Linked DNA regions of Homo sapiens. The protein of the gene in region 2 interacts with the protein of the main gene of each other region in a biochemical or structural test. Each region holds a gene or a part of one and is shown on either strand. Other genes may lie near its edges.

What was found.
Region 1: the proteins of PKM (region 2) and CDC25A form a complex in vitro, tested with the Homo sapiens proteins (one study listed by BioGRID).
Region 3: the proteins of PKM (region 2) and DAPK1 form a complex in vitro, tested with the Homo sapiens proteins (one study listed by IntAct).

The regions. Positions count from the first base shown.
Region 1 is NC_000003.12:48,164,414-48,171,439, forward strand, and holds part of CDC25A (M-phase inducer phosphatase 1), read right to left. Parts: intron 3,532-7,026; coding exon 3,433-3,531; intron 1,481-3,432; coding exon 1,418-1,480; intron 1,322-1,417; coding exon 1,223-1,321; intron 25-1,222; coding exon 1-24. UniProt on the Homo sapiens protein: Tyrosine protein phosphatase which functions as a dosage-dependent inducer of mitotic progression. Directly dephosphorylates CDK1 and stimulates its kinase activity. Also dephosphorylates CDK2 in complex with cyclin-E, in vitro.
Region 2 is NC_000015.10:72,214,172-72,221,197, forward strand, and holds part of PKM (pyruvate kinase PKM), read right to left. Parts: coding exon of another isoform or gene 6,997-7,026; intron 4,940-6,996; coding exon of another isoform or gene 4,927-4,939; coding exon 4,773-4,926; intron 3,330-4,772; coding exon 3,238-3,329; intron 1-3,237. UniProt on the Homo sapiens protein: Catalyzes the final rate-limiting step of glycolysis by mediating the transfer of a phosphoryl group from phosphoenolpyruvate (PEP) to ADP, generating ATP.
Region 3 is NC_000009.12:87,633,845-87,640,870, reverse strand, and holds part of DAPK1 (death-associated protein kinase 1), read right to left. Parts: intron 2,929-7,026; coding exon 2,790-2,928; intron 1,518-2,789; coding exon 1,388-1,517; intron 1,222-1,387; coding exon 1,173-1,221; intron 1,083-1,172; coding exon 1,056-1,082; intron 574-1,055; coding exon 421-573; intron 70-420; coding exon 24-69; intron 1-23. UniProt on the Homo sapiens protein: Calcium/calmodulin-dependent serine/threonine kinase involved in multiple cellular signaling pathways that trigger cell survival, apoptosis, and autophagy.

The sequences.
Region 1 (7,026 bases), on a different chromosome or scaffold from region 2:
TTCCATGTGCAAGTTCACTGCACCCTGTGAAGACAACAGAGACCCTTGGAACCTGCACGTTTCACACATGAAGTAATGATTCAGCAAGATGTAATGATTCATCAAGAGTGATCTTTAAGTCCACAAGACCAGTTTGTGATTTTTGCAGTTCTTCTAGCTGAATAGCCCAGTAGACCATTTGGCACCTGTATCTCAATGGAGCTTTGTGGGTCCGTACACGTTCATCATACAGTAATGCACATGGGGACTGGAAATGGGCAATTCAAATATGACAATGGTACACTTTATAGGTAGTTTTATAAATTTGGGGATTTTCAAAAGCCACAAGACAATGGCAAACAGTAACATCGTATTTAAAGTACCTCCTTACTATATTTAAACACTATTAATCGGGTAAAACATTAAAATGGCAGGCCAGGCGCCGTGGCTCATGCCTGTAATCCTAGCACTTTGGGAGGCTGAGGCGGGCGGTTTGCCTGAGCTCAGGAGTTTGAGACCAGCCCGGGCAACATGGTGAAACCCCGTCTCTACTAAAAAAAAAAAAAAATTAGCCGGGCGTGGCAGCGTGCACCTGTAGTCCCAGCTACTTGGAAGGCTGAGGCAGGAGAATTGCTTGAACCCAGGAGGCAGAGGTTGTGGTGATCCGAGATCATGCCACTGCACTCCAGCCTGGCGACAGAGCGGACTCTGTCTCAAAAAAAAAAAAAAAAAAAGATTAAAATGGCAAAATCAGTTCCTTTCTTCTTGGGAACGTGTGTCCCAACACGCCCCTCCACCAGGCAGCTTGCTGAACAATCAACTTTGGAGGCATCACTAGGCCTGGCACAGACACCAGGACATGTTGCCAGAGATGGTCTTCTCCTCATCAGGAGCCCTGGGGTGCTCAGACATTGGTACCCAAGCCTCTTAAATGCTATGAAACCCATTCTTGTCCCCCGAATGACTTAAACATCAGTGGGTACCTCCTACAAGTGTCCTTGATAATGATGGTGTGAGGGACAAACATGAAGAATAACTGTGCACAAGGTGGTAGAGAGTATTGCAGACAAGGGAACATTCGTTAAGAGCACCCGGAATCAAATGCCTTCCACACTCACTGTATTGTTTCAAAATTCTAACAACTAGCATATGAGCTAAGTGGCCAGGTGTCACTGTCCTCCCCACTTTAAAACCACAGATCCTGTTTAGGGCTCCTTCTACAGCAAGTCTCAGGAATCCATACCTTGATGTGGCCTCCCTCGTATTCATATGGGTATCGACAGTCGATGATAACAAACTCTTTAATGAGGTTGGCAAACTTGCCATTCAAAACAGATGCCATCTGTTGAGAGAAAATTAGGGAGAATCAACTTTGACCGTCAGGGAAAACTAGATTCAAGTACCCGATGTGTGGTGGGTTTCAAAAGGATGGACTTACAATTTCTGGAGAGATGTATTTTAAATCCTGATGTTTCCCAGCAACTGTATGAAAGAGATAACCCTTAAAAAGAAAAAAAGATACTTAGAGAATCTGAAAGCCTATATATTATTCACACTTATACTGTTTTGTCTGGCTGGTAGGAGGCATCTTTTAAAAAACAAACATTAATGGCCAGGCACGGTGGCTCACACCTGTAATCCCAGCACTTTGGGAGGCCGAGGCTAGTGGATCACCTGAGGTCAGGAGTTCGAGACAAGCCTGGCCAACATGGTGAAACCCCAACTCTTTTAAAAATACAAAAATTAGCCGGGCGTTAGCATGCACCTATAGTCCCAGCTACTCGGAAGGCTGGAGTGGGAAAATCGCTTGAATCCAGGAGGCGGAGGTTGCAGTGAGCTGAGATTGCACCACTGCACTCCAGCCTGGGTGACAGAGCAAGACTCCCTCTCAAAAAACAAACAAACAAACAAGCAAACAAACATTAGTTAGTACACACTAGTTACTCTTCTAGTTACTTCATTAACATCCTGACATTTAATTTTCACACAAACCAATGAGGTATATTATCCCCATTTTGAGCACCTTATCCAAGGTTACCTAGCTAGTAAGGCAGATTTAAATAAAGAAACCTCAGGTAATCTCATTTTCCTCCTGCTTTTGTCAAGAATCCACACGTCAGTAGTTAGACTGCGAATAGCACTTAAACATACAGATTTCACTCATTTACTGAGCACCTGCTATGTCCAGCATGGTGCCAGGCACTGGGGATAGGAAAAAAAGAGACCTAGCCCAGCCTTGAGGAGGAAGATGCACACATTAGCAATTACTCATTAGGGTGACTGGCTGAGCCAAGAGTTCATCTATCCCCATGCATAGGCCCATTAAGACAAATATAACCAGGCCTCAATTCAAGTTGAAAATTCCACTGAGTGTGGTGGTGCATGCCTGTAGTCCCAGCTACTTGGGAGGCTGAGGCAGGGGGAGCACTTGAGGCCATAAGTTTGAGGCTACAGTGTACTATGATAGCATGTGCGAATAGCCACTGCACTACAGCCTGAGCAACATAGTAAGACCACATCTCTCCCTGCCAAACAAGAGAAGGTTCCAAAACTGAGGATACAGCTGGATCTTTGCTTGTTCTCTTCATTCTCCGTTCCTTCAAAACCCATTTGGGCTGAAATATCAACGGCCCAACCCCAGACGTTCCCCAACCCCCTAGCCAAGATAAACCCTTTTACTTCTCACGGCATGCTGTTTATGTTTACACCTCACTAAAATTTATTTCAGTCTACCATGTGGTACATGTAGTTCACGTCTCACCTCTCCAACCACATGCTAAATTCTTTGAGGGAAGGAACTGTATCTCATTTTGGAATCTCTGCCTAACACATAAGTGCTTCAATAAATGTTAACTAAATTAATGAATAAAACATTGATCTGGTAACCTTCAAGTCAAAATGTGATTAAAGAAGCTGCTATTGACACATTCCCTGTCCTAGCCTTGTATTTTACTGCAGCCAAGCCTTCATGTAGTATATCAGGCTATTAGAAGATCTTCCTCTAGACTTCCTGGAGGGTCTTTTCCCTCAATGGCCAAGCTTCTCTGAACGGAGAAATTCAGTCTCAATCCCAGACCTTCTAAGATAACCTTTCAACATGCAGACTTGTAGTGTGGCTACAGATTTATTTCTGCTGTACACTATCCTGCTAATTACTATTTTTATAATAACACAGTTCCCAGAGAGCCTAGTCTTTGGGTTACAATCAAGGTGGTTGGTGGACAGCTCCCTACCTAAAACTGCCCATCAGCTATAGTGATATCTACAGTCTCAGAAACCAACATATACCTGATCATGAGAAACTAAGTTTGCTTCCCTACCTTTAACATTCTTTTAACTGTGTCCTTTTGGAGGTATGCCAGGAACCACCCTGGGGAGGGAGACAGGCTGAGTGGGATTCTAAATACCCACACTCCCTCCTACACTTGCCAGAGCAGCTCTGCTTGCAATTACCTTGGAGAAGTCTCCTATAAGGTCCCTTGGGTCATTGTCCAAAATGTTCTCAATGGTTCCTTTGGGGGAAGATGCCAGGGATAAAGACTGATGAAGAGTCTGTAACAAATCAAAGGTAGAGAATGAGACAAGGGTTCTGAATGGAACTTCCGAAAACATTCACTTGGAGCATGTCTCGAGGAGACTAAAATGTTAATGCCTACATTTAGTAAGAAGTTTTTATTTTATTTTATTGAATCTGGAGTGAACAAAAACAGATGTGGGTTATTGACTAGGTCTCCTATTATTCCAGTGTCTAACCGAATTGCTCTGAAACTAAGTTTTCCTTCCTTCCTTAAAAAAAAAAAAAAAAAAAGGGGGTGCAGGTGGTTTGGCTCATGCCTGTAATCCCAGCACTTTGGGAGGCCAAGGTGGGTTACTCACTTGAGCCCAGGAGTTCCAGACCAGCCTGGGCAAGGCAGGTGAATCGCTTGAGCCCAGGAGTTCCAGACCAGATCAAAGAGCAAGACCCTGTCCACACACACACACACACACACACACACACACACACACACACACACACAAGCTGGGCATGGTGGTGTGTGCCTGTAGTCCCAGCTACTTGGGAGGCTGAAGTGGGAGGATCACCTGAGCCTGGGGAGGTCGAGGCTACAGCAAGTGGTGATGGTGCCACTGCACTCCAGCCTGGGTGACAGACTGAAACTATCTCCAGAAAAAGAGAAAGAAACAAGGGGGGTTAAAACTAGGATTAAGTTTAGAAAAAGTATGTCTTAACTTTTTTTTTTTTTTTTTTTTAAAAAGACAGAGTCTCGCTCTGTCGCTCAGGCTGGAGTGCAGTGGAGTACAGGAGTGGAGTGCAGGCTGGAGTACAGTGATCTTGGCTCACTGTAACCTCTGCCTCCCAGGTTCAAGCGATTCTGCCGCAGCCTCCAGAGCAGCTGAGACTATAGGTGTGCGCCACCACGCCCAGCTAATTTTTGTATTTTTAGTAGAGACGGGGTTTCACCATGTTGGCCAGATGGTCTTGAACTCCTGGCCTCAGGTGATCTGCCTGCCTTGGCCTCCCAAAGTGCTGGGATTACAGGTGTGAGCCACCGCGCCCGGCCTACGTCTTAGCTTTATTCAATGAGAAGAGGAAGCCAGCTGTTAAAAAGGGGATAATTTGAGTAAAAGGATAATACTTGTAATACACAGAAACACATTAAATGTTTTAACCCATGAATTCCTGATTATTATTGAAAAACAACTATAAGTCTTGCTTTCAACTTTGGAAGATGCTTGGTAGGGCATTATTTGGAAACTGGCAAATAAAGAGATCCAATATTCATCCTGCCTTTCCCAAGGGTAACCACAGTGTTTGATGAGTGTAAGTTTCTCTTTATAGATATATTCTAGCTAATTAATGAGGAAAGAATGTAAAAACTGCAGTATCATCTTTCTGAAACCCTGGTGAAATGAAGTAAAAAATCTGGGCAGCAATCACCAATGGCTGCCTGGCACATTATACTTCCTGATCAAAGTAGACAAAATCACCTATGTGATATTCTTGCCAAACAAATAGAACTGGAATTCAATCCATCCTTTCCAGAGTTAGGTTAAGGCAATATAGGGGATAGAAGACAATGTCTGAAGACCCCACAGGACTGTGGGAACCTTTGCAGGACAAATGACTTGAGCTCTTCAACAAATAAAAATATGCAAGAGGGAAACAGATGGAGCACTGAAATCTGAAGAGTAAGAGACCTATTGACCAACTACAGTGTATAGACTTTATTTGGATCCAGATTTTAACAAATAAACTGTAAAAGTACTTAGGAGACAACTGGGGAAAACTGAACCCAGACTGGATATTTGACATTTGATAGTAAGAAATTTAGCTCTGCCGGGCGTGGTGGCTCATGCCTGTAATCCCAGCACTTTGGGAGGCCGAGGTGAGTGGATCACTTGATGTCAGGGGTTCGAGACCAGCCTTGCCAACATGGTGAAACCCCGTCTCTACTAAAAATATAAAAAATTAGCCAGGCGTGGTGGTGGGCGCCTGTAGTCCCAGCTACTTGGGAGGCTGAGGCGGGAGAATTGCTGGAACCTGAGAGGCGGAGGTTGCAGTGAGCAGAGATCGACCCATGGCACTCCAGTCTGGGCGACAGAGCGAGACTTGGTCTCAAAAAAAAAAACAAACAAAAAAACACCCAGAAATTTAGCCCTGTATGATATGTTTGTGTGAGGAAAACACCCCACAAACTCAAAGTGATTTTTCTTATTCCCTCACTCAACAGCAACAGAAGACAGAAGTGCTGTTACCCCCAGATATGAGGGGATTTCTCCCTACCAGCAAGCAAGCAAGCAAGCAAGCAGTTCTGCAGTGGAAAATAGCTGGGTGCCGTCCAATTCAATTCTGACACTATCTACCTGCAGAGCGTCAGATCAGGAAGTTGAGGGCCCAGTCCTCAAAACCACACCACCCTTCAGACACCAGTTGGGCCTCTGGATCTTCTGATCTACGACCACCAGCTTTAAGTAGGGGTTCCCATGACCCCTTCTTTGGGTTTAATTTGCTAGAAGTGGCTCACAGAACTCAAGAAAACACATTTACCAGTTTATTATGAAGGATATTCAAAGGATATAGAAGAAGACATGCATAGGGTGAGGTATGGGAGAAGGGACATGGAGCTGCCATGCTCTCCTTGGGTGCCCCAACCTCCAGGAACCTCCATGTGTTCAGCTATCCAGAAGCTCTCTGAACCCTGTCCTTTCAAGGTTTTAGGGAGGCTTCATTACATAGAAATGATTGATTAAACCATTGGCCATGAGTGATCAACTTGACCTTTAGCCCCTCTCCTTTCCGTAGATATTGGAGGGTGGGGCTGAAAGTTCCAACCTCTAATCATGTCTCTGTCTTTCCAGTGACCAGTCCCACCCTGAAGCTATCAATCATTAGTATACAAAAAGATATGACCTTGGATATTCCAAAGATTTTAGGAGTTATATGACAGAAGGGGAAGAAGACTAAATATATATTTCACAATATCACAGGTATGATAACTGTACTCTAGCAATGCTTGACATTTTCTCCACAATGGAATTTAAAATACTAAAAATTAAAATATATGAAAATAAACCAAAACATGAGGGCCAATATATATACAAAATAATTATTAACAGTATTATTTTATCCAAAAAAAGTTTTACAAATATGGAAATAAAAAGGTCAATCTCTATTACGGTAAAAGAAAATGAATATTCTGGCCGGGCACAGTGGCTCACACCTGTAACCCCAGCACTTTGGGAGGCCAAGGCGGATATATCACCTGAGGTCAGGAGTTCAAGACCAGCCTGGCCAACTTGGTGAAACTCCGCCTCTACTAAAAATACAAAAAAAATTAGCCAGGCGTGGCAGTGGGCACCTGTAATCCCAGCTACTCAGGAGGCTGAGGCAGAGACTTGCTTGAACTGGGGAGGCGGAGGTTGCCGTGAGCCAAGATCCTGCCACTGCACTCCAGCGTGTCTCAAAAAGAAAGAAAAAGAAAATGAATATTCTTTTTTTTTTTTTTTTGAGATGAAATCTCACTCTATCACCCAGGCTGGAGTGCAGTG
Region 2 (7,026 bases):
CCACTAAAAAATTTTATCAGAGAATGTGTCTGTATAATTTCTACTTTATGAAACGTGGGGGTTTTTTTGGTGGCCTAATATATTTTTGTAACCATGAGTGTTTCATGCAAACATGCATTTTTGGTCTTGGGGATGTAAAACCATATATTATAAACATACCAATTATTAGGTATATTATTCAAATCTATGTCATATATCATAATCTCTTAGAGCATCTCTGGGAGGTGTACTGAGTCTTCCACTTCAGCTGTGGCTTTATTGGGATGTTATGTGGTAAAGCATCCATCAATGCTGTCCTGTGGAAGGCTCTACATTTAGGTTGTTTAAAAGTCATTATTTCTAGGCCAGGTGTGGTGGCTCACGCCTGTAATCCCAGCAATTTGGGAGGCCAAGGCGGATGGATCACTTGAGGTCAGGAATTCGAGATCAGCCTGGCCAACAAGGTGAAACCAAGTCTCTACTAAAATACAAAAATTAGTCGGGTGTGGTGGCAGGTGCCTGTAATCTCAGATACTTAGGAGGCTGAGGCAGAAGAATCTCTTGAACCCAGGAGGCAGAGGTTGCAGTGAGCCAAGATCGTGCCACTGCACTCCAGCCTGGATGACAGAGCGAGACTCCCTCTCTAAATAAATAAATAAATAAATAAATAAATCTGGAAAACATGGCATATGGAACCACATGTTCAGCAAGAATGCATCTTGCCCATGTGAACTGCCAAAAGTGAGGGCTGAAGACTAGTTGCCAAAGCTGTTAAAAGAGGGCTGGGCGTGGTGGCTCACGCCTTTAGGAGGCCGAGGCAGTCGGATCACCTGAGGTCACAAGTTCAAGACCAGCCTGGCCAACATGGCGAAACCCCGTCTCTACTAAAAATATAAAAAAATTAGCTGGGCGTGGTGGCACAGGTCTGTAATCCCAGCTACTCAGGAGGCTGAGGTATGAGAATTGCTTGAACCTGGGAGGCAGAGGTTGTGGTGAGCAGAGATTGTGCCAGTGCACTCCAGCCTGGGCAACAGAGCAAGATTCTGTCTCAAAAAAAAAAAGCTGTTAAAAGATCAGATGCAGACATTTGATGTCCCTCTGTCAGAGTGAGAGGGAAGACAGTAATCTCAACGTTCTGCTCAGAAGAGCATTTAAAATAGTCAGAAACTGGAAAAGTACGCCCCAGCCCCTAGTCAAAGGTGCACATGAAACGATAGCCCTGACGTATGGTAAGGCTGAAACTGTTTACATTACATTATATAAATTAGAATAATTTCAGATCAGTTTCCAAGCTGAGCCCACACACAACCTCATCTTGGTCTAAAACTTCAAAATGAACACACAAGAGGGACATCTTTAAAAAATAAATAGATAAAAAATAAAAAATAAATCTTAATTATAATCTGGGAATAGGAGTGAAAGTAGAGATAATCTCCAAAAGCCTCTTAAAGTTTAAAATACCAAAATCGGAGCCAGCTCTCATCCAGCAGGTGTGGCAGGTATCACTCGCCCTTGCCATGTTAGAGCTATGTGGTGTTATTTTACTGGATGAAGGAACCATAAAGCCTACTTAAAGGTCAACTTCTTAAAAATCTATTTCTGCTCCTTCCCCTGAATGCAGGAGCCCATGGCAGACTACAGCAGCAGGGATCAACAGCGAACAGACCTCCAGCATTGTCTTCAGCTCTCTCTAAGCTAAGCTAACACTTAATTCTCTAACAAGTAATTCTCGGTGACTCCTGCTAAGGACCCCTTGCTTTTGGAAAACTACAGAATTTTCCAAAAGGTACAGGGACATGTCTTAACCTACATGGTATGTCTGCTGGACTTGGTCAGGTCCCCATGACATTTAAGGGCCAGCCACTAGCCAGGCCATAGGCTGTTTATGAACACAGGTTAGGGAATCTATGATGAAGAGTCTTGTGTTTCCCAAAAGGAGGAATTCACTCTTGGATTGCATTTCCTGAGGCTTTATTTTTAGTCCAAACTTAATACCAACTTCCAAATGCCAGAGGGCAACCTCTGTAAGGCAATTGGCCTTACAGGATAGCATTTTCTTTACTCTCAACAGGAAATACAGAAGCCAAGACAGGTGCAAAGTTTGCCTCTTCTGTAATTCCTCTTATCAATGCCATTACGAAATCCCATGATCTATGGGAAACCTATGGTTAAGTCTGAAGGTTTTAAAAAGGCACAATCCCAGGCTGAGCATGGTAGCTCATTCCTGTAATCCCAACATTTGAGAGAATCACTTGAGCCCAGGAGTTTGAGACCAGCCAAGGCAATATAGTGAGACCTCATTTCCCCCAAAAAAATTTTTAAATTAGCCAGGTGTGGTGGTGCATGCCTGTATTCCCAGCTACTCGGGAGGCTGAGGCAAGAGGATCACTTGAACCTGGGAGGTCAAGGATCCAGTTAGCCATAATCATACCACTGCAGTCCAGCCTGGATGACAGAGCAAAATTTTGTTTTATAAAATAAAAAAATAAATAAGTCATGGTACCTCAGGGAACCCCAAGCTCCTCAGAATGGGTTAATTCTAAATCTGGCAATGGAGGCAGGAATGGAGCCATCCCAACAGCTGCTACCTGGCTCCTGGGCAAGGCCTCTGTCCATAGGTAAAGCCAGCTAATAAAGAGCCCAGCACAAATACAGTCCTACTAGGCTCCTGGGGAAGAGTGCTAACTGGTGTTATTTTAATGTACCAGAACCCCTGGGAAGGCACAGGCTGAGAATACAGTGCTGAGGAAGTGGGGTATTACACCCCAGATAGTGCTTATGCATTAGGCTCAGTCCCTCAAAACTTAGAATAGTGGAAACCGTTCTCATGGACCTGCCCAGTTATTTTGGTTCTAAGCTAGAATCAATCTGCTAGATGGTTTACCATGGCAACACAAGGTGAAGCAGAAACCCTGGGACAGGAGAGTCAAGCGCTGTGGCCAGGACACCTAAGGCTTAGAGGGTTTTCCAGTAGAACCTTTCCATATCTTCCTTTGTAAAAGCTAAGGGTAGGAGAGGTGTGTGGGAGAACCACAGCCAGCAACAAAGGGGGTCCTTTTTGCTAAAAGAGACTCAGCCAGTTGCTTTGTCAGGACAAGAGGGAAGGAGAGTAGGGATGGGCTAGTAAAGACAAACTTCACACTGACTGTGAAACTCAGACTCATCCTTGTCTAGTCCACTGTGGCTAAACGAACACTGCACCCCCTCCCTGTTTCCTACAGGCCATCACAATGGCCATAGGGTCCAGCCACAGCTCACCTCATGAGTTCCATGAGAGAAGTTCAGACGAGCCACATTCATTCCAGACTTAATCATCTCCTTCAACGTCTCCACTGATCGGGAAGCTGGGCCTATTAGGAAAAGTTTTAAAGCCACAAGTATTAATTATTCAAAGAAGGAAAAACATTTAAGTTTGCTTAAGTTTAAAGAATTTTTTTCCCTGAAAACTTTTCCTCTCCCAAATAGCTCAAAAGTCTTTAAAAAGTGCATGGAAGGCTACTACCGTGCCAGCTTACTTTCTTGATCTACTGGGACACTTCGACCATTTCCTTCAAGTTCTGCAGGCTCCCACTGTATCAGAAAAGCCTAGGTTAAGACTTGGCCAGCCTTCTCCACCCTCACTGAAACCCAGCCAGATGTCCAACCACAGAATCTTGGTAGCACAGAACATGTTAGAAAGATCTTTCCTAGGTCTTTAAGTTGCTCCTACAAAGACCTGCTAAGGAAAACATCTTCTAAATTTTGCCTATAGCATAAAACCTAAACCATATGGATTCTTTTTGCAACAAATTATTTTTTATTATAAACTGGTAATTTATAATTTGGGTTACAAAGTTATGTAATCCAATACATACAGTTTGGATACAATGTGGAATAATTAAATCAGGTTAGTTAACATATCCATGACTTCAAATACTTAACATTTTTGTGGTGAGAACATTTGAAATTTACTCTTAGCGATGTTTTTTTCTTTTTTCTTCCTTTTTTTTTTGAGGCAGAGTTTCGTTCTTGTTGCCAAGGCTGGAGTGCAATGGTCAGATCTCAGCTCACTGCAACCTCCGCCTCCCAGGTTCAAGCAATTCTCCTGCCTCAGCCTCCCAAGTAGCTGGGATTATAGGTACCCGCCACCACCCCCGGCTAATTTTTTTGTATTTTTAGTAGAGATGGGATTTCACCATGTTGGCCAGGCTGGTCTCGAACTCCTGACCTCAGGTGATCCACCTGCCTCAGCCTCCCGAAGTGCTGGATTACAGGCATGTGCCACTGCGCCCGGACAATTTTTTTTTCTTAAGACAGGATCTCGCTCTGTTGCCTAGACTGGAGTGCAGTGGTGTGATCATGGCTCACTGCAACTTCAATCTCCTGGACTCAAGTGATCTTTGTCTCAGCCTCCCATGTAGCCAGAACTACAGGTGCATGCCACCATGCCCAGCTAATTTTTTTTTTTTTTTTTTCACTTTTTGGAGAGACAGGGTCTAAGTTGCTCAGGCTGGTCTCAAATTTCGAGGCTCAGGCAATCCTCCCACGTTGGCCTCCCAAAGTGCTGGGAGCCACCATACCTCGCCATCTTAGCAATTTTGAAATGTCTAATACTCTCTTATTAACTGTATTTGCCATCCTATGCACATACTAATTCTTTACTGCAACTTCCTATGACCTGAGTCCTTTCATAAGAATCTGTGTAGTATCCCATGTAGCACCTAGGTTTGTTAGGACATTTAGTTACTCTTTTCAGGAGAGAAAGGTCACTGCCCATGAAGCCCTTTTTTGGGGGAAGGGGCACACCCACTCACCAATGGTACAGATGATGCCAGTGTTCCGGGCTGTGATGGGTGGTGAATCAATGTCCAGGCGGCACATGTGCTCCAGGAATGTGTCAGCCATGGCTGCGTGCAGCTGCTGGGTCTGAATGAAGGCAGTCCCGGCTTCACTATGGGGCTTCGACATGGCTGCTGAGGTCCTGGGTCGAGACAAATTGAAAGAGAGTGGTAAGACTGAGAAGTGGTTAATATACCATTTAGCACAGAAGGCTGTCTCCTGCTTACACATTAACTCAATAAGCACGCTTTGTACACAAGCCACAGGGAAGCCAGACATGATCTGGTTATGTGGGTGCTCCTCATGTTAGAAAAAGGGTTCACCAGATTGTGAACAATGGAAAGGACCTTACTGAACAAGTTAAAACCTCCCACCCACTCCACATAGTCCCAAGCACCCACAGTAAGCAGGTCTCTCTTACACTGGGCTGACTGACATCTACCTAGACAGCTTTCTCACCACCCTATCTATAAATAACATCATTTAACATGCACTGAAGGAGCTTCCAATGAAGGAAGTTGTAACCAATCTTCCAGTGATACAAACAACTGACTCCTAGCTTAGTGCCTTGATAAGCCTAGATCTCTGCATGTCAAGCTGTCACAAAGCTACAAATAGCTGCTTTGTCGTGGGGCACCCATATTGCCTCTTTACAATCCTCACCCAAACCCAAAGTCATTCCCCTGAATGCAAAAGCTTCCATCCCAGGAGTCTAAACCTAAAACCACATCTACTGTTGGCCAGAAGGATGTCAGGACACGCAAAGCAATTTGCAATTTGCAAAGCAAGGATAACATAAGGGCACTGGTATAATTCTGAAATTATCACAACTACATTAACAGGATAGTTGCAAACATAGAGAAATTAAAGTTGCTGGTCAAATCTTTTCCCCAAATGATTTTTGATACACATCCTGATTTCTTTTCTAAGCCTGACAAGTATACCACCACTCTGTAACACAGACCATCAGTTCCAGGTAATTAACTAGCCCAGGTCACAACCCTGACAATGGCCCCAACCTTTGCTTTCTTCATTAATGACTTACAACTAAACTCACTCAGCCTGTTAGTTAGCTGATTAGAGACAAAAACTCAGGAGAAGCTTCCAGGCAGTGTTTGAATAACTATCAGGTAAGGATGTGAACCAGACCAGGCAGTGTTTGAAGAACTATCAGGTAAGGATGTGAACCAGAAGCTTGCTACACGTCTCATCAGAAAGCTGTTTCCTTGAGTTCTCAGACCAAGGGCTACTCTTTCTAAAACGCTTGAGCCTAAATGCTTCGGCCAAGCAAGGCTCAGGAACAAGCTCCTCTTTAGCCCTTCCCCACCTCATCCTAAATCTCAAAGTTCCAAATCAAGGCATCTCACACATATGACCCTTACTCCTTTACCCTGTTCCATCTCTGACTTTGTGGGCTCTCTGGGTGGCTCGAGTAGAGTATACATCTAAATCCATCTCTGCCATCTCCAAAGAAGGCCCGCTGAGGTCCAAGGAGCTCTGAAGGCAGTAGTGAACAGTCTGTTGGCTATGGAAAACTGATGGCCACAAGTCCTCAACCACAGATTCTAAAACTTTTAAAATGGGGAAATAAGATACCGGCTAACGGTTCAACATGGCAAATGCACTCTTCATTTCGATGTGTATTTCCTAAGCCCCTAATATCTACTACGTACCAAAATGAAAAAATCAATCCTCCCTTCCAGGACCTATATGGTTTTGTATCTCCTAGCACCTAGTATGTGGAAGCATTCCAGTGTTTGTTAAATGACCTTTCAGTCTCTCTGAATGCCTCTTTGTCAGAATCAAAGTTATGCCTCTGCTCCCCCTTCCCTAAATCTGAGGAACTTCTGCATTACTGACAGGAAAGCCTGGGGCCCCTGGTCCCTTTCCCTACACTCATGGTTGAGGGAGGGCTCGCATACCTTCAGAGCTCCCAGCTGGGCTTAGGGAAGTCTGGCTGTTAAGGGAACATTACTGAGAGATGGCACATCAGGCCAACTGGAACACAAAGGCTTTGCTGTGGCCTCCAATGGGCCTACAATCTAGGGACTGTATTGTGAACAAAATAAGATCTGAATAAGTGGGTTGGAGTAACTAATTCCACTCTTTTTAAAAACCATCAGCTGGCTCTTCTTAGACCTGAGATATGAGGGTCTTCCTGTAAAGACCTGGCTGGGGCCACTGAATATCAGGTCATACCTTTGGTTCTCTGGGGTTGGGCTTCCGGTG
Region 3 (7,026 bases), on a different chromosome or scaffold from region 2:
CAGTTTCGTAATATGCAACTCACCTTGATCCAGGGATGCTGCAAACTATCTTGAATTGTCATTCTCTTCCTTGAGGGGAGGGGGAGAAGAAAAAAAATGCTGTGACCATAGCAGCAAATACTAAGGTTGTTTTCATGCTGGCTGGGCCTGCCAAGCAGATACTGTGGAAAATGCAGTTCAGGGAAGAAAGCCAAAAACAACATCGGTCTTTTTGTGATTATTTCACTGTGCCTGCAGGGACTGACTGAGTGGGGGCAGAGGGCCCTGCTTGCATTTTCTGAAGCGTTTCACATGGCATGCTGCCCTTTGGCAGATGAAGCAAGCAGGGTCTGAGGAACGTGGCCCTGTGCATGGAACAGACACAGGCTCTGGGCTGGCTGAGGCCGTGGCCAAGCACCTTTCAGGAACGTGGACACTCACTTTGGATCCTTGACCAGAAGTCTTCTTATGAAATCTTTGGCTAGGGCACTGGTATTACTGAAGTATTCATCCTCAAATTCGTAGTTGACAGCGGATACATTTGCTAACGTTTCTTGCTTAGTGTCTCCAAGAAATGGGGAGGCCCCACTTAGGCTGTTAAAAATAAAGTTGGGCATAGAACATTAATGATGACCCCTTGGTGTTGTCATTTTGCTCCTATAACATCTGGAGTGTGGAATAAGATTATAATCTGGTGCTCGAATAGTCACAGTTTGATTATATTTCATAGGGCTTTAACTGTCAGGAGCAAATGCTTCAGCTTCAGGCAAAAGGATTCACTTAACAAGTTAATCTGGAACAGCGTCTGGTAGTTTAAAGGAAACCTGTTTTCTCGGCAGTGATGGACAGCTATGCTTTCTTTCAGTGATTATGCTACAGTTTCTGATGACTCATTTCAAATTAGGAGAACATGTTTAATTAGTATAAACTAAACATGTTTTGGGGGTGTAAAATGAATATGTTTGCATCAAAAGCATGCATAAGCTGAAGAGATCAACACAGCACATTTAATGGTTAATTAAACCTATGGTCTCATAGAAGAGAAGAGAGTATGAGTTGTGAATTCTGATACTTACAGGATATAGGTTATTACCCCGATACTCCTAAAAACAACACAAAACAAACAAAAAAACATGTCAGAAGAATAGTCAAATAAATCAGAAAGCAAACAACACCAAGGACATACTCCTTACCACATATCTGCCTCAAGACCAAGAGGTTCATAGTTGACTATCTCAGGAGCTAAGAGGAAACAAACACTCATTTAGCTTGGGAGGAAGCAAACTAACCGATTCTATCTTCATGCAACAACCAGGAACATGTAGCAGGGAAAGAATCTTCTAGCAGGGGAGGTTTGCCAGAATAATGTTTATGAGACGTAAATGACCACAGGAGCAAAGAAACTTACCGACAAACTCTGGAGTCCCAAATATGTTTTTAAATTCATTTCCAAAGTCAATTTTATGGGCCAACCCAAAGTCAATGATCTTGATCCGAGGTTTGGGGACATTTCTATCCAAAAGCATTATGTTCTCAGGCTTGAAAAAAAGAGAGAGATAAATAAAAAGCTATGATATGTTATGCTGAGGACAAGATGGCAGAATAGTTCTTCTCTCCAAAAAAAAAAAAAAGGCCAAAAAGTAGGGAAGAAAGGGTGGTTGGAAGAGAACAGCAGGAAAATACATGTCTTGCTCTAGGTTCTCCCTGAAGCAGGCCTGAGACAAGGATTCGGATGCAAGTGGGTTATGTGGGAGGGGACACCAGGAAACACTTGGTAGAGAAAGGAGATACAGGAAACAGAAGGAAGCTGCTACGAGGTGTCCTATCAAGTGGGGGTAACTGGGGGAATGGGAGAGGAAAAGGAGAACTCAGTGTTATTCCAATTGTAGCAGGAGGGAGCTGGGGTCTTTATCCACCATTTCTCCATCCTCCATGGCTGACAGTTGCTTCTGTGGACATTTTTCTTTTGCATTTCCAGCTCCCAGGGCCAGAAACAAGATGCCAGGAAGAGTCACAGGTATTTGCAACAAGCCCTCTGTTAGGATGTATATGAGTGTGTGCTTTTGCACATTGTTTGTGGGGCCAGCAGGGACATGAATGGGACATTGACAGCTCTGCTACAGAAGAATGGGGAAAATCCTCCCTCCTCTGAAATCCTATCCCAGCTCTACTGGTCTGAATCAACTACTCGGATGGAGCACGCGCTGCTTTACCAGACCACCTCTTCCTGCCTTGAACTGGAACTTCCCACCATTGCCACTTCCTATTGCTCCTGTCGTGTCTTCCCTTCCCAAAGAGACCACACCTCTGTCATGGCTGGGAGGACGGCTTACATGCCCTTTCATCTCCAACAGCGTCCTGCATCCAGCCAGGCAAATGCCCCAATTAGCCAATCTGAGTTTGGTTTGCTTGATTATTGGTGACAGAGTCAGGCCATACGCCTTTGCATCACTCAACACATTTTCTATCTTAACATGCCCAGAGCCACAGAAGGAACCAGTGCCAGTCACTAGCTGCTGGCTAGAGCAGCCCCCTTACTAAAAAACCTGGCTCCTAAGACCCCTTGTATTCTTTACCAAGAATTCCAGAATGTAATCAATTATCATTAAGCCTCTATCCCACAAAAAGGTTAGCCATCCCAGTGGGGGGCATGTATCCTATGCTTGCCGATTTATAGTGATATTTCTGTTTGTTAAACTGGTACAGGAAAATCATGTAACTCTTTCAGATGCCTCAATTTTTCTTAGCAGAGAAACAACCAAGGCTGTGATCTGCACAAGCTTCTATCTGGCTTACACTTTGAAACGTACCTTAAGATCAAAGTGGGCGATTTGAAGGGAGTGCAGGTAGTAAACACCATTAAGAATTTGTTTGAGAAATTCAGTTGCTTCCTCTTCAGTTAAAGATTCCTTTTCAGCTAAGAAGTCAAACAGCTCGCCACCTGCAACGCTGAGAACCCGGAAGCAGAGGTTATTGGTAACAACTCTGTTTCATATTGATTCCTTCTCTCATAGACTATTGGTGCGCTCAAACTTCAGACAAGAAAACAGCATAAAGACTATGCTGAAACCGCCAAGCATGGATTCAGAATTCTCTGTGCAGGTTGTTGACAATTCTGCATTCAGACACATTTGTGCTTGAAAGCACTTGGGAACCATTTTCCTAAGGTTCCGTGTTCACAAATGAGAGGAGGGGCAGAGATGAAATGCTGTGAAGAAAATATCAGTGTATCTTGAAAACATTTTAATTAAACATACTTAGAGGTGATGTCTTAACTCTAATGACGAGAAAAAAATCTGCAAGCCAGCTTTGTACAGAATTTATAGTGTATATCTTCTTATTTCAATTAGAGAGTACCTGAAAAGTTCATAACTTGCATGTTTAATTAATTCTTTAAAACTCAAATTCACAATATATGGTCTGATAAGGGTTTTTTCCTCTCTTGTCTAGTATTGGTTTGTATGTAAATACTAACACATTTATAAAAATCACATTTAGTAGCCTGGGCGCAATGGCTCACACCTGTAATCCCAGCACTTTGGGAGGCTGAGGCGGGCGGATCACAAGGTCAAGAGATCGAGACCATCCTGGCCAACATGGAGAAACACCGTCTCTACTAAAAATACAAAAAACAACTGGGCATGGTGACGTGTGCCTGTAGTCTCAGCTACTCGGGAGACTGAGGCAGGAGAATCACTTGAACCTGGGAGACGGAGGTGGCAGTGAGCCAAGATTGTGCCACTGCCCTTCAGCCTGGTGACAGAGCGAGACTGTCTCAAAAAAACAAAAAAAAAGAATACATTTACAAAAAAAGCAAAATGTATGTTGTTGGTTGCGGATTTTTTTAGTTTATTTCTCTGTCCAGACTGTAAGTGGGTGGAGGGGAGTGGTCAGAACCTCCCACCCCAGCTATTGGCTACTGCTGTATGCCCCACTCCCCGCCAGAGCCAGGCACACAGCATGCATTCAAAACTTTATCAGGTGGATGGACGAACAAGCTCCCCTAAAAACTCCACGATAGCGATGAATGGCAAATAACAGGGAAGTTTTAATAAGAGTTTTTATAAGTTAATCTTTATCAAGTTTAACCATATATTCACAACATAATAATTAAGTGCAATTATGCACAAACTGCTGTATTCATTATCTCTCTTAGGGCAAGAGCGCTCCCCAAACATTATACCTTCCACATCTACATCCATTCAGAGTAAGAAAATTGGTGCTCATAAGATCAGATAAGAATGACAAAAAAGCTGTTTTCTTAAAAGTTTCAGATCCCACATGCCTTCACCCTCCAGGTCAGTGTTTTCCTTAGCACGGTCTAGAGTCCATGGGTATCAGAATTATTTGAGGATGCTTTAAAAATGAAGATTCTGAGCCTCACTTTCAATCTGCTGTGTGAGGGCTTCCAAGAATGGTGACCAGAAAACTCAGCATCTTTAACAAGCACCTGAAAAACTGAGACCATTTTCCCACGTCTTAATTCCACGCTCCTGCTGCAGGGCCTCCCACTGGTTTACGGGGATGGTGGAGTGACTCTCCTATCCCCAGGGGCCTGGCAGAGGTAGCCACACCCTCCTGTGAGCAGTCCACAGGCCTCCCCTATCCTCCAGGGGACACAGCAGGGCCTGGGCCCAGCCAGGACATCCAGGAGTCCAAGCGAAAGGTGTCCTACATGGACCCTGCCTCAGCAGTGGCCTTGCTCTCCTCCTGACCCTTCCCTGCACTCCCCACCCTGCTCTTGGGAGATGCAGTCTGCCCCCACCCTCTCCCCTCCCAGGTGTCCTTGGCCTCACAGCCCCCACACTGTCTGCCCACGGAACAAGGCAAGGCCTCCCGCTTCTCACTTTTGCATCTTATTCTTAAAACAAACAACGGGGAGAGAAAATCCTTCAACTATAGGGGGGAAAAAGTGGGAGATTGTGAACCAACCTCACCCAAAGAAAGCTCTCCCATCACACCTGGGTCTCCAGCCCTGGCTTCTGTGCTCTCTGGGGCGCCCCGCACCACTGGGCTGACTCAGGCACCGTGGCCACGTGATGTGGAGAAGTCAAGTGCCTGCATCCAGTCCAAGTCTTAACTTCTGCCACGCGCTCACCCTGAAACCCGGAAGGTTACCCCTTCTCTTGAGCCTCATTTCCCCAAAGAGGAGTCATAAGACCTCTTCCCTTGAAGGTTATGAGGATGAAAGGTAATAGACATGTGTAACTGGCAAGGCTGGCACGTGGGTAAGGTCCAGCTTGCGGGAACGAGTGTTGTTATAAAGAAGGCCACTGTCACCCCTGTAGCATACCACTGCTTCCTACAGGATCCAATATGAAAGCCCCTTCCTGCCCGCTCCTCCTCCTAAAACTGGTCCATTGGTTGAGCCTAACCACTGTGCTTCCCAGGAAGAAGGTGAGGGGAAGGAACTGAAACTTCTGCTGTGAATGTGGTGCCCAGCCGCCGGCTTTCTCTCCGTGGCCCTCTTCAGGGCCTCCCGAGCCCACCTCACTCGCATTCTGCTTGTGTTGTCTTAGAGTACAGAGATGCATTTTTCAGACAATGAGAAACGTCAGGAGTTTGGCTGCCTGGTTGGGGTGAATCTTCCAGCACCCACACAGCTGGCGCAGTCTGCTGGCCCTGAGTCCTTTCCAGGGACTCCACTGTCCAGCCTTCTGGCAACCCCATGCTGCCCTGGCCTCAGGCTTTGCCCGCTCTTCTCTGGCCAGCTTTCTCTCCCTCCCTGCCAACCTAAGCTTTCTTCAGACCCAGGATCTCCTTCTCCTGCCAGCTCCGTCTTCTGTGAGGCAGGATGGCAAAAACGAGGGGACCATGGTTCAAATCCTGCCAGGGCCTCCAACCTTGCTGAGCCTCTGACTCCCCTTCTATAAAATAAAGGGTAACATCATAGCTTACGGAGTCATCCTGAGGTTCCAGGACATGTAGCGACCCTTAGTGCTCAATAAATGCTGCTGTCTTTCTTCCCATGTGGCTTCAAACCAGAAGTCCTCCCATGGCAGCAGGGGTGTGCAGCAGGTTCTTTGGCGTTGGGGTGGGTAGAGCCCATTCCCGAGGTGTCACATTCCCACCATGGCCATCTCAAACTCCCTCCCCACGTGATGTCAGGGACCGTGGGTGGAGTTGGGGAGGGACAGGCACTGCAGCGGTGACCTGGGTGAGCTGGGATTGACACGGCACTGCCGAGCAGCCACCTGGCCTGCCATGGTGTTCCACATTTTTCCGAAGACGGTCTGACAGCATCTCATCCTCATGCTCTTCTGCACCGTGATTGTGCCATCCTCCTTCAGGCAGTGGGCGGCATCTGTGGCTCCATCTCTTGAATCTGGGCAGGCCCCATGATCACTTTGACCAATGGCACAAGTGATTTTGCCAGCCCTGCTGTGGCTTTTCATGGACTGGGGGCCTCCAGGTCCCACCTCCTGAAGCCCTCAGGTAAGATGCAAGAAGTACGACGATGCCAAACCACTGTGCCACGTGGAGAAACCCAGGAAGAAGAGATGTCCTTGGAGAACAAGGCCAAGGAGCCTCGAGCAAGGAAGGCACCTTAGAAGGGGACCCTCCAGCGCAGCCGAGGCCACAGAGGTCAGAGACTGTCCATTCAGCAACTGATCAATGAGGGAACATAACAGGGCCTGCCAAACTTCCATCAAGGGCAGATCCTAAATATTTTAGGCTTTGCCAGCCTTGCAGTCTGTCCCAACTACTCAGCTCTGCTAATGTATCATGAAAGCAGCCACAGATGACATGTACATGATGGGTGTGGCTGTGTTCCAATAAAACTTTAGTTAAAAAATAGGTGGCAACCTGGGTTTGGCCTATAGGCCATAACTTGCTGATCCCTGATATAAAGACTAGGTCATCACAGCCCAACCTGGGGCAACTCTCAAGGGTCATTCTGGCCCCAGAACTCCCTGTTGGCCAACTGGGGCTGCCACTAAACCCATTCCTGCCCCCTTCTCCTCTTCTCCAAATCTTGATCCTAAGTATAGTTCTTAATAAACACCATGCACACTCTTCTCCATCTCAGAGTCTGCTTCCCAGGGA